Homo sapiens: one gene and its partners. The protein of the gene in region 3 interacts with the protein of the main gene of each other region in a pairwise test. Each region holds a gene or a part of one and is shown on either strand. Other genes may lie near its edges. The genes, in order: CRX, ATF1 and HNF1B.

The links.
Region 1: the proteins of HNF1B (region 3) and CRX interact in binary tests that used the Homo sapiens proteins (3 or more experiments, as listed by UniProt).
Region 2: the proteins of HNF1B (region 3) and ATF1 interact in a two-hybrid assay, tested with the Homo sapiens proteins (one study listed by BioGRID).

The regions. Positions count from the first base shown.
Region 1 is NC_000019.10:47,824,907-47,828,562, forward strand, and holds part of CRX (cone-rod homeobox protein), read left to right. Parts: intron 1-3,656. UniProt on the Homo sapiens protein: Transcription factor that binds and transactivates the sequence 5'-TAATC[CA]-3' which is found upstream of several photoreceptor-specific genes, including the opsin genes.
Region 2 is NC_000012.12:50,818,792-50,821,728, forward strand, and holds the end of ATF1 (cyclic AMP-dependent transcription factor ATF-1), read left to right. Parts: intron 1-843; coding exon 844-988; 3' UTR 989-2,371; downstream 2,372-2,937.
Region 3 is NC_000017.11:37,689,517-37,693,172, forward strand, and holds part of HNF1B (hepatocyte nuclear factor 1-beta), read right to left. Parts: intron 1-3,656. UniProt on the Homo sapiens protein: Transcription factor that binds to the inverted palindrome 5'-GTTAATNATTAAC-3'. Binds to the FPC element in the cAMP regulatory unit of the PLAU gene. Transcriptional activity is increased by coactivator PCBD1.

The DNA of each region.
Region 1 (3,656 bases), on a different chromosome or scaffold from region 3:
CCAAGTGTCTGCCGAGTGATGAATTCCTGGACATTCTTTTTTTTTTTTCCTCCCCAGGAGACAGGTCCTCTTTCGATTGATTGATTTTTTTTTTTTTTTTTTGGGATGGAGTCGTGCTCTGTCGCCCAGGTTGGAATGCAGTGGTGCAATCTCAGCTCACTGCAGCCTCCGCCTCCCGAGTTCAAGAGATTTTTGTACCTCAGCCTCCCCAGAAGCTGGGACAACACCATGCCCGGCTAATTTTTGTATTTTTAGTAGACGGGGTTTCACCACGTTGGCCAGGCTGGCCTTGAACTCCTGACCTCAAGTGATCCGCCTGCTTCAGCCTCCCAAAGTGCTGAGCCACTGGCCTGGCCTGTTTTGTTTTGTTTTGAGAGAGGATCTTGCTCTGTTGCCCAGGCTGGAGTGCAGTGGCTGGATCATAGCTCACTGCAGCCTCCAACTCCTGGGCTCAAGCGATCTTCCCACCTCAGCCTCCCAGAGTGCTGGGATTACAGGTACGTGCCACCACGCCCAGCCCTCACTGGAGGCCCTTCTGTCATCAGCTGCCTCAGGTTGCTGCCAAACCCAGGGAAAGATTTCAGTGGATGTTCAATATTATTATTGTTATTATTCTCTGCTGACATCTTGTCTAGGCAGCACTTTATCATTATTATCAGCTGTTTGATCTGGGGCCCACACTTTCCTCCTGCTGAGCCTCCTCTCCCCTATCCGTTAAAAGGGATGATCCTGGCCAGGCACTGTGGCCCACGCCTGTGATTCCAGCACTTAGGGAGGCCGAGGTGGGCGGATCACCTGAGGTCAGAAGTTTGAGACCAGCCTGGCCAACATGGAGAAACCCAATCTCTACTAAAAATACAAAAAAAAAATTAGCCAGGCATGATGGCACATGCCTGTTGTCCCAGGTTGGGAGGCTGAGGCAGAAGAATCGCTTGAATCCGGGAGGTGGAGGTTGCAGTGAGCCAAGATTGCGCCACTGCACTCCAGCATGGGTGACAGAGACTCCGTCTCAAAATAACAACAACAACAAAAACAAAAACCCAGAAAGTGGTGATCGTAAATGTGAGCTTTCTTGGCTTTCCTGGAAGGTTAACTGCTTAGCCAGGCAATCTGACTCAGATTTGACGGCGAAGACAATGAAAGTGTGTGCTTTTGTTCCAGGCCCTGCAAATGGTCCCCAGTGGGGCAGGTTCACCAGTTTCCTTGTCTCCACTCTCTGGAGGTTCATATTTAACATTATTGGTTTTTGGAGAAGTGGGAGAGGACAGAGGGAACCCAGGTTAGGGGGCTGGGGGAATAGGACCTTCAGGAATTACTCTAGCCTTGAAATCCTGGATTCTCCACTGCCAGCCTGTGTGTGATCCCGGGTAAGTCACACTTTCGAGCCTGAAGATGTTCTCTAAACTGTAAGCATCAGGCAAAAGCAGTGTCTCATGCCTGTAATCTCAGCAATTTGGGAGGCTGAGGCAGGAGGATCTGCTCAGGCCAGGAGTTCAAGACCAGCCTGGGCAACATGGCAAGACACCTCTCTCTACACAAAAATTTAAAAAATTAGCTAGGCGTTGTGGCACACCTGTAGTCCCAGCTACTTGGGAGGCTGAGGTGGGAGGATGGCTTGAGCTCAGGAGGTCGAGGCTGCAGTGAGCTATGATTGTGCCACTGCACTCCAGCCTGGGTGACAGAGTGACATGCTGTCCCTAAGACCAAAACCAAAACCAAAATGTAAGCATCATAGTAATACAGTCTCTACCTCCCAAGGTTGTGCTGGGGATTTAATGACTACCTGTATAGAGAAGGCTTGTGTATTAGTTAACTATTGCTGGGTAACACTTATCCTAAAATTGAGCAGCTTCAAACAATAAACATTTCTGATCTCTTATAGTTTCCAAGGGACAGGAATCCAAGAGTGGCTTAACTGGATTATTCCGGCTCAGGGTGTTCCATGTGGTTGTGGTCAGATGTCGGCCAGGACTGAAGTCACTTAATGGCTTGGCTGAGGCTGGGGAACTAACCTCCATGGTAGCTTACTCTCATAGCTGTTGGCAGGAGGCCTCATTTCTTTGCCACATAGACCTCTCCGTGGGATGGCTTGAGCATCCTCACAACATGGCGGCTGGCTTTCCTTAGAGCTAGCCTTGGAAGCCACGCTCTGTCATTTCTGCAATATCCTGTTGGTTACACACGTCAGCCAGCTTGTTAGTAGGGACTACACAGGGCATGAATATCAGGGGGTAAGGATTATTGGGAGTTACCTTGGAGGCAGTTTGATTTTGGGGATTTAATGTAGCTGCTTTTGATTTTATTGTCAGCACTGAGCCTTCTCGTGACATTCCTACCAGGTTTTACTTGTTCTTTCTGCTTTTCTCCATGATCAATCTGCTATGGTCACACAGGGTGCCTTGTTTCTTCTCCAACAAGACCAAGTTGGAGACCCTGTCTTGCTCAGGGTGACGGTGTGAGATTCCAGCCTCCAAGCCTTTGCACCTGCTGTTTTTTTAATTTTTTTTTTTTGCCTGGAAATCTCTATTCCAGATCCACACAAATTCCTAGATGCCTCACCCACCCCAAATGCCTTCACTCTCATAACAACCTGTTTTATTTTCCTGGGAGTTCTTGAAACTTTCTGAAGGCTTTTTTTTTTTTTTTTTTTTTGACAGAGTCTTGCTCTGTTGCCCAGGCTGGAGTGCAGTAGTGCCATCTCAGCTCACTGCAACCTCCGCCTCCCGGGTTCAAGCGATTCTCAAGTAGTTGGGATTACAGGCACCCATCATCATGTCTGGCTAATTTTTGTATTTTAGTAGAGATGGGGTTTCACCATGTTGGCCAGGCTGATCTCAAACTCCTGACCTCAAGTGATCCTCATAACTCAGCCTCCCAAAGTGTTGGGATTACAGGCAAGAGCCCCTGCTCCTGGCCATGGCATCTTTATTAAAAAAAAAAAAAAAAAAAAAAAAAAAAAAAAAAAGGCAGGGCGTGGTGGCTCACGCCTGTAATCCCAGCACTTTGGGAGGCCGAGGCGGGTGGATCACATGAGGTCAGGAGTTCGAGACCAGCCTGGCCAACATGGTGAAACCCCATCTCTACTAAAAATACAAAAATTAGCCAGGTATGGTGGCAGGCCCCTGTAGTCTCAGCTACTTGGGAGGCTGAGGCAGGAGAATCACTTGACCCTGGGAGGCAGAGGCTGCAGTGAGCCGAGATCAAGCCATTGCACTCCAGCCTGGGGGACAAGAGTGAGACTTCATCTCAAAAAAAAAAAATTTTTTTTTCCTTGTTTGTTATTGGTTTCTCTAGGAACGGAACCAAGAAGTTCAATTCTATGAGAACAGAGAAGCTGCGGTCTTATTTCTTCCTATATTCCTAGTTCCTAGAGCAGGGAAGGCATTCAAAAAATATTTACTGAATGAACAGTAGAATCTCAACTTAAAATAAACAGAATCTGTCCCCCTCCTCATGTGAGGGATGAGAAGGAAAGGACAGTGAGAGGAACGGAAGAGTGGGAGCTCACAATAAACACCATCCATTTTTAATTCTTTTTCTTATGTTTCAAATATTTATTGGGGGTGCTGGGGACATGGCAGGAACCGAGATATTACCAGTCCCTGAACTCAGGTAACTGATAGAATTTGAGGGAGAGAGATAGATAAACAAACATA
Region 2 (2,937 bases), on a different chromosome or scaffold from region 3:
GATGAGGTTTTGCCATGTTGGCCAGGCTGGTCTCGAACTCCTGACCTCAGGTGATCTGCCCGCCTTGGCCTCTTAAAGTGCTGGGATTACAGGCATGAGCCACCATGCCTGGCCAATACTTCCGATTTCTATATGTATATAAACTTACATATGACTTCACAGAAATGTTTTAAGAGGACATGCACAGAACTGAGTATTTGCTCAAGCATTGTTTGTAATTTGAACTTAAATAAAAGAAGTCATGTGTCAGAAGTTAACCAGAGGACCCATAATTTCACTCTTTGGTATTTATTCAAGAGAAATGAAACCTTTCTACAAAAAGACTGGCACAAAAACATGCCTATGCAGCTAACCCTAGAAACATCGCAAGAGACTGGATACACAAATGGTGGTTATATTCATACAGTGAACTATGTCCAGCAGTGTGAAGGAACAAACCCCCATGCAGCAACATGGATGAACCTCAGATGGGCTGAGTGAAGGGACACCAGAGTACATAGTGTATGACACTCTTACATGAGGTTCTAGAATAGGAAAAAAACTAATCTCTGGTGATAAAAATCAAAACGATAGTTGCTTGGAAGGGGGCTGACCAGGAAGGGGCATGAGGGAACTTTCTGGGACAGTGGGAATGTTCTGTTGTCTTGACAGAGGTGTGGGTTATACAGGTATACACAATTGCCAAAACTGACTGAATTCTACACTTAAGATCTATGTATTCTCTGTGTGTAGATGATACTTTAAAGAGAAAAAAAGGTGACCACGGAAAATTACTGAAGAACATTTACCATTTAAAGAATGTGAAGTTTTTTCTAACATTGTTTTTTTAATGCTCATATTTAGAGAAGCTGCTCGAGAATGTCGCAGAAAGAAGAAAGAATATGTGAAATGCCTGGAAAACCGAGTTGCAGTCCTGGAAAATCAAAATAAAACTCTAATAGAAGAGTTAAAAACTTTGAAGGATCTTTATTCCAATAAAAGTGTTTGATTCCTAAGAAAGAAAATATTTTTGTGGACATGCATAAAAATTAAATGGATTTCCTAGTGGAGTTTTATAAATTAAAAGGTCAAAACTGAAGCTTTTTATTTAGGCTTTTCCAAATCAAGGATAAATATCTTACGCACGATATCTAGTGACAGAGGAGAAAGTGGAAAATGACCTCAAGGAAGCTACGGGCACAACTGGAAGCTTTGTAGAAATTAAACATATTCAAGGAGCAAGAAATGAACTTTCAGCAGTCTAAATTTTCTAAATAACCAATAGTTGCCAATCTAAAATGGCAGAGAAGATGAAATTTGATAAACTGAATTTTTTTTAAAAATCCATTTACCCTACAGGTTTGCATTTGTTTGCTGAAATTTACCTTTTTTTAGTTATATATATGTGTGTGTGTGTGTGTAATTTCTGCCAATAAATTCTAAATTACAAAGGTAAGAGAAAACCTAGTACATTACTAAATATATAAAGTATATGTTCTGATTATGTATACTTGTTCTAGTGTCAAGTCTTTTTAAGTGGGTTTTTAAAAGTTTGTTATTGGACTTGAATGGATTTTTGAGACTAGGTTAATTATTTTTGAGGTCTTATCCTAAAAGGCATCTAAGGTACATGAATGGAGTATGGTGATTTTATAACATTTTTTATCAGAATGGAAAAAGAACTGTTTAAAAGTTTGATACTTTTAAATAGTTGGTTTTTTTGCTTACTCTGGTAATGATTTTCTACAAATACATAATAAATTGTTTTTTTGAGTCTATATTCTGTATGCAGTTGAATATCCATTACTTATTCTGCTGTGCTTTAATAGAATGGAATGTTTACAGGCCCTTAAAATATTATTTTTAAAAAACCTTCTGAAGATACATACCAAAGTTTTTCCAAGAAGATTTTATAATCAATTTAATAATGTAAGGTTTATCAGATTCTATAATAGTATAGTTATTAAGGCAATTTTATGTTAGAGACTATTTTGTAATGTAGTGAGTGGTACCTTTATAAGAAAAGTGACTGCCAATATATTTTTATAGCTGATCTTTATAAATTCTAATGTTGAGTTTTTAATGATTATTTTAAATGTTTATATAGTTTAGTAAAATTTGCATCTCAAAGTATCATTTTTATATTATGGGACGTTTTCAGATTGGCTAATATTTGCATTGTAAATTTTGTATGCAGTTTATCTAAAATTCAAAAATACTGTCAGTACACCAGCGTTTAACATCTATATTCCAATTTGTATACAGTTTAAAATTGTACTGCAAAACTATTGTGTGCTCTTACACAGTATGCATCATATTGTTGTCTGTGAAATTAAAGGACATTTGATAGTCTACTGAATGTAAAATATAATGCTTGGTATATGAATGATAAGCTTGCTCCTGGCCATGCTGTTAATTATCCTAATGCTACGTAGAAATCTTCACTTAACTGATACATTTGTGTTTGACCCTCCTGATGAAATTTCTCATTAGAAGGGTCTTTTAAAATGGGACTCTGTTGACTTGGCAGCACTTTATGAAAAGAAAAAAAAGTTTGATCGCCAGGGGGATTACTTATATCACTTACTACCTTGTGTAAAGCCAGAATCTCAAACTGGTGGCCCGTTAGGCCTAAGAATATGAGGAGGTATGAGGTCACTGGGTTATGTCAAAAGACTTTTTCAACAGATGATAATATATTATTGGGTAGACACCGTGCTTGTTTACAACAGAGGTAGCCTAGCTCTTAGTGCCTTAACAGCTGGACATCTGCAAATATTTGTAAACTCTGCTGCCTTCAGACTTCTGGTGTAGGGCCTTGCTAACTAGACCCAGTTACTTACTCTAGCTGTATGAAACAGGTCAGGGCAAACCATTAATGGTTCCATAAATGCATAACAAATTATTTTCCTGGGTGTTTTTCTAATTGGAATCCAATGTGGGGCTTATCAAATTTTT
Region 3 (3,656 bases):
TGTCAAAAGAACTAGAGTTATTTGCCTCCTTCAGAGTCTAAACACAAACATCTGATAAGGGGTGCACTGTGGTCCCTTAGAACTGGAGGCCCAGCACACGCAGCCCCACGGGGGCCTGGCCCAGAAGATCTCTGAGAGACCGCGGGGCCCTCCGTCTGAAAGGTGTGGTAGCTGTGGCAAATGTGAAGGACATCCTTATTCTAAGAGGATTTGTTACATAATGGTAAGAGCTAACATTTATCGACATCCTACTGTGTGCCAGGCACCATACCAAGGGCTTCACAAGCATCACTGCCTCGAGTTCTTACGTCGACCCTTTGAAGTAGGTGATTATCGTGAATTCATTTAACACGTTTGAGTGCCTACTGTGTACTTGGCACTTTTTTAGACACTGGAGATGCAGCTGTAAACAACACCCTGCCCACTTCTTCACAGGCTTTACCTCCTAGTGAAGGCTTTGAATAATAAACAAGTAAACAAATGCGTGCACACACACACACACACACACACACACACACACACACTACAACTTTAGGTGGAGATGAGCACTCCATAGAAAAATAAGCATAGAGGTTAGGGCAGCTTGAGGAAAAAGAGATTAACTTAGATATGGGAATCAGGCGAGGCCTCTTTGAAATGGTAACATTTGAGCTGAATGAAGTGAAGGGGCAAGCATGTAAAAATGCACAGAAAAAAAGAGCTCCAGGCAGACACCACAAATGCAGGAGTCCTGGAGTGGGATCTCTTCAGCCCTGGCACAGCTAAAGCTGAGCGGGTGATGGAGGGAGGAAGGAGGTGAGAACGGCGACACTGGCAGGGGCATAATCACATAGGGTCCTGTATGTCTCTGTTTTAGTTTGGTTGTGATGGAAAGCTATTGGAGAGTTTTGACAGGGGATTGACATGCTTGATGTCTCTTTGTAAGAGATCACTCTGGCGAACAGCCCCCAGTGGGGCAAGGGTGGAAGTGGGAGACAGGCAAGGGCCACCTAAGGAGATCAGGGAGAGACAAGGGGGCCTGGGCTGGGACTAGGGCAGTCCTGATGGGAGTGTGAGAAGAGGTCAGATTTAGGATGTATTCTGAGGGTCCCCTAGTAGAACTTATTGAGAGACTGATGTGATGTGGAGAGAAGAATCAGGGATACTCTCAGCTCTCTCACTTGAACAACTGGTACCAGTTTTGGAAATGGAGAAGCCCATGGGGGAAGCAATTTTGATAGGATGAAATAGGGCAAAATGAAGAGTTCCTATTTTAGGCACGTTGAATTCAAGAGGCTTATTAGATATTTTAGACATGCGTCTGTCCCTGCCGAAGCAGCACTGGATCTGTGAGTGAGCACTCAGTAGGGAAGACCGGACTGTACACAGAATTACAGGAACCATCGGCGTGTACACTTGACCTAAAGCCATGGGACTGGAGGAGATCACCCAGGAGTGAGCACAGATGAGAAGAGGCCAAAGAATGAGGCCCGGGGCCCTCCAACACATAAATATTGGGAAGATGAGTTGCCAGCTGAGGAGATGAGAAGTGGCCAGTGCCGTAGAAGAACCAGGAATGGTAGTATCCCAAACTCCCATGGAAAAAAGGAGGGAGAGATCAGCTGTGTCAGAGACAGAGGTTGAAAAGTAACCATTGGTTTCAGCAGCATGGAGGGGATCGTGAGCTGGACACAGTGAGGCGTGAGGATAAAGGCCAGTCTGCAGTGATCTCAAGAGAGAATTGAGGGTGAGGAAGTGGAGACAGTGAGGACAGATAAGTCACTTCTATGACCATGAACTTATGTGAGATTCATTGTGGCTCCATTAATTAAAAGTCATGATTATAATTCCGGTTTTACAGATGAGGGAAGTGTGGCCTGGAGAGGTGATAAGTAAGTTGGCCGGGGTCTCACAACAGCAAGGCTTGTGCTCTTCACCCCTATGTAAGAGCACTTCTTTCAACCCCCTCAACACGGGGAAATAAATGCCCTTTGCCACGTAAGACCCTTTTCCCAAACTCAGAGCCGCTCAGGGGTGCTAGCAGGGGAAGCCAAGAGTGACCCAGCTTCCATGGGCTGGGTGTTTCCTTTGGGACATGCGCTGAGTGAAGTATTTTACAGGTCTTCGTGCAGTTAGTCCTTTCAGTGATCCCATGAAAGAGGTATCATTATCTTCATTTTACAGGTGAGCAAACAGAGGCTCAAAGAGGCTAAGACATTTCTCTGAGGTCACACAGGTAGAAAGTGGTAGAATGTTGAGCCCAGATCTGCCTAACTCCCAGGTCGATGCTCCCAACCATCAGAACACTCTGCTTCCTCACCCAGTGAAGAAGCTGGGAGAGGAATAGCCGAAGGGGATAGATGATGAGGCCACCCACCTGCCCCCTTGTCAGTGCCCTGACTAGTTACTGCTCTGGGGGCCCTCTCTTCACCTTCCCATAAACTAGGAAGTCAAGCAGCGGGGAGAGAACACTGTGGAAACAGGAGTTGGCTCACAACCTGCCTGCACTTGTTCTAACTGAGGTCAGTGGTTGCTGTGGTCTTGTTTCCAGACTAGCGGGGCATTGTTGAACTCAGGCACAAACCCACTCAGAGATAACTTGCCAGCACCCAAGAGTTGAGAAGGAGGGAGACGTATGTGCTCTGGAAGGGACAGATGGCAGTAGATGCAGAAGGATTCTTGGCGCGAGAAGTCCCAGCCTGGGGTTCCTGACCTGTAATCCCCAAGGCCCTTGGGGCATGTCTGCCTTGACAACAGGAAGTACTGGGATCAGACAGATACAAGTACAAATCCTGGCTTTAGCCTTATACCTGCATAACCTTGGGTTGTTATTATGGGTGCTTAAAAGTGGATATTGGAAGATGAACGTTGTTTAATGAGTTTGGAGTGAGAAAGCCAGTCTGGAAGTCCAGCTCTGGAATTTATGATCTGTTTGAACTTGACCAGATCCATACCCATCTTTGAACCTCAGTTTTCTGCTTTGTAAATCAGGTATAAAAATAACGACCTTGCAGAATGGGTAAGAGGGTTCTCCAGGAAATGTAAGCTAGAAAAGCATCTGGGGTGCTGCTTGGAAAATGGAGGCATCAAAAAACACGGGTTCTGCATTCATTCGTTCGTTCGTTCATTCATTCTTTGTTATTTACTGAACATCTAATATAGCCCAGGCATTTGGCTAAGCCCAAAGGGTATGGGTGCTTTGACAGGCCCTGAACTATTTGCTTTTTTCCTGGGAAATAGGTGAGCAGGGAGTCTGTGTATCAGCAGGAGAATGGGAAACAGGGATCCGGAGCCCAGGCCCAAGAGGTAGGATGTGCTTGAGAGATGGTAGTAATCCTGAGACATTTTCTTCTCCCAGCCTCCTTTGACTGCATGTAGACCAAGCACTGAATTGGATATTGAAAGAGTCACTAGGCCGGGTCCAGTGGCTCACACCTGTAATTCCAGCACTTTGGGAGGCAGAGGCGGGCAGATCACGAGGTCAGGAATTTGAGAGCAGCCTGGCCAACATAGTGAAACCCCGTCTCTACTAAAAATACAAAAAATTAGCCAGGTGTGGTGGCCTGTGCCTGTAGTTCCAGTTACTTGGGAGGCTGAGGCGGGAGAATTGCTTGTACCCAGTAGGCGGAGGTTGCAGTGAGCTGAGACCACACCATTGCACTCCAGCCTGGGTGACA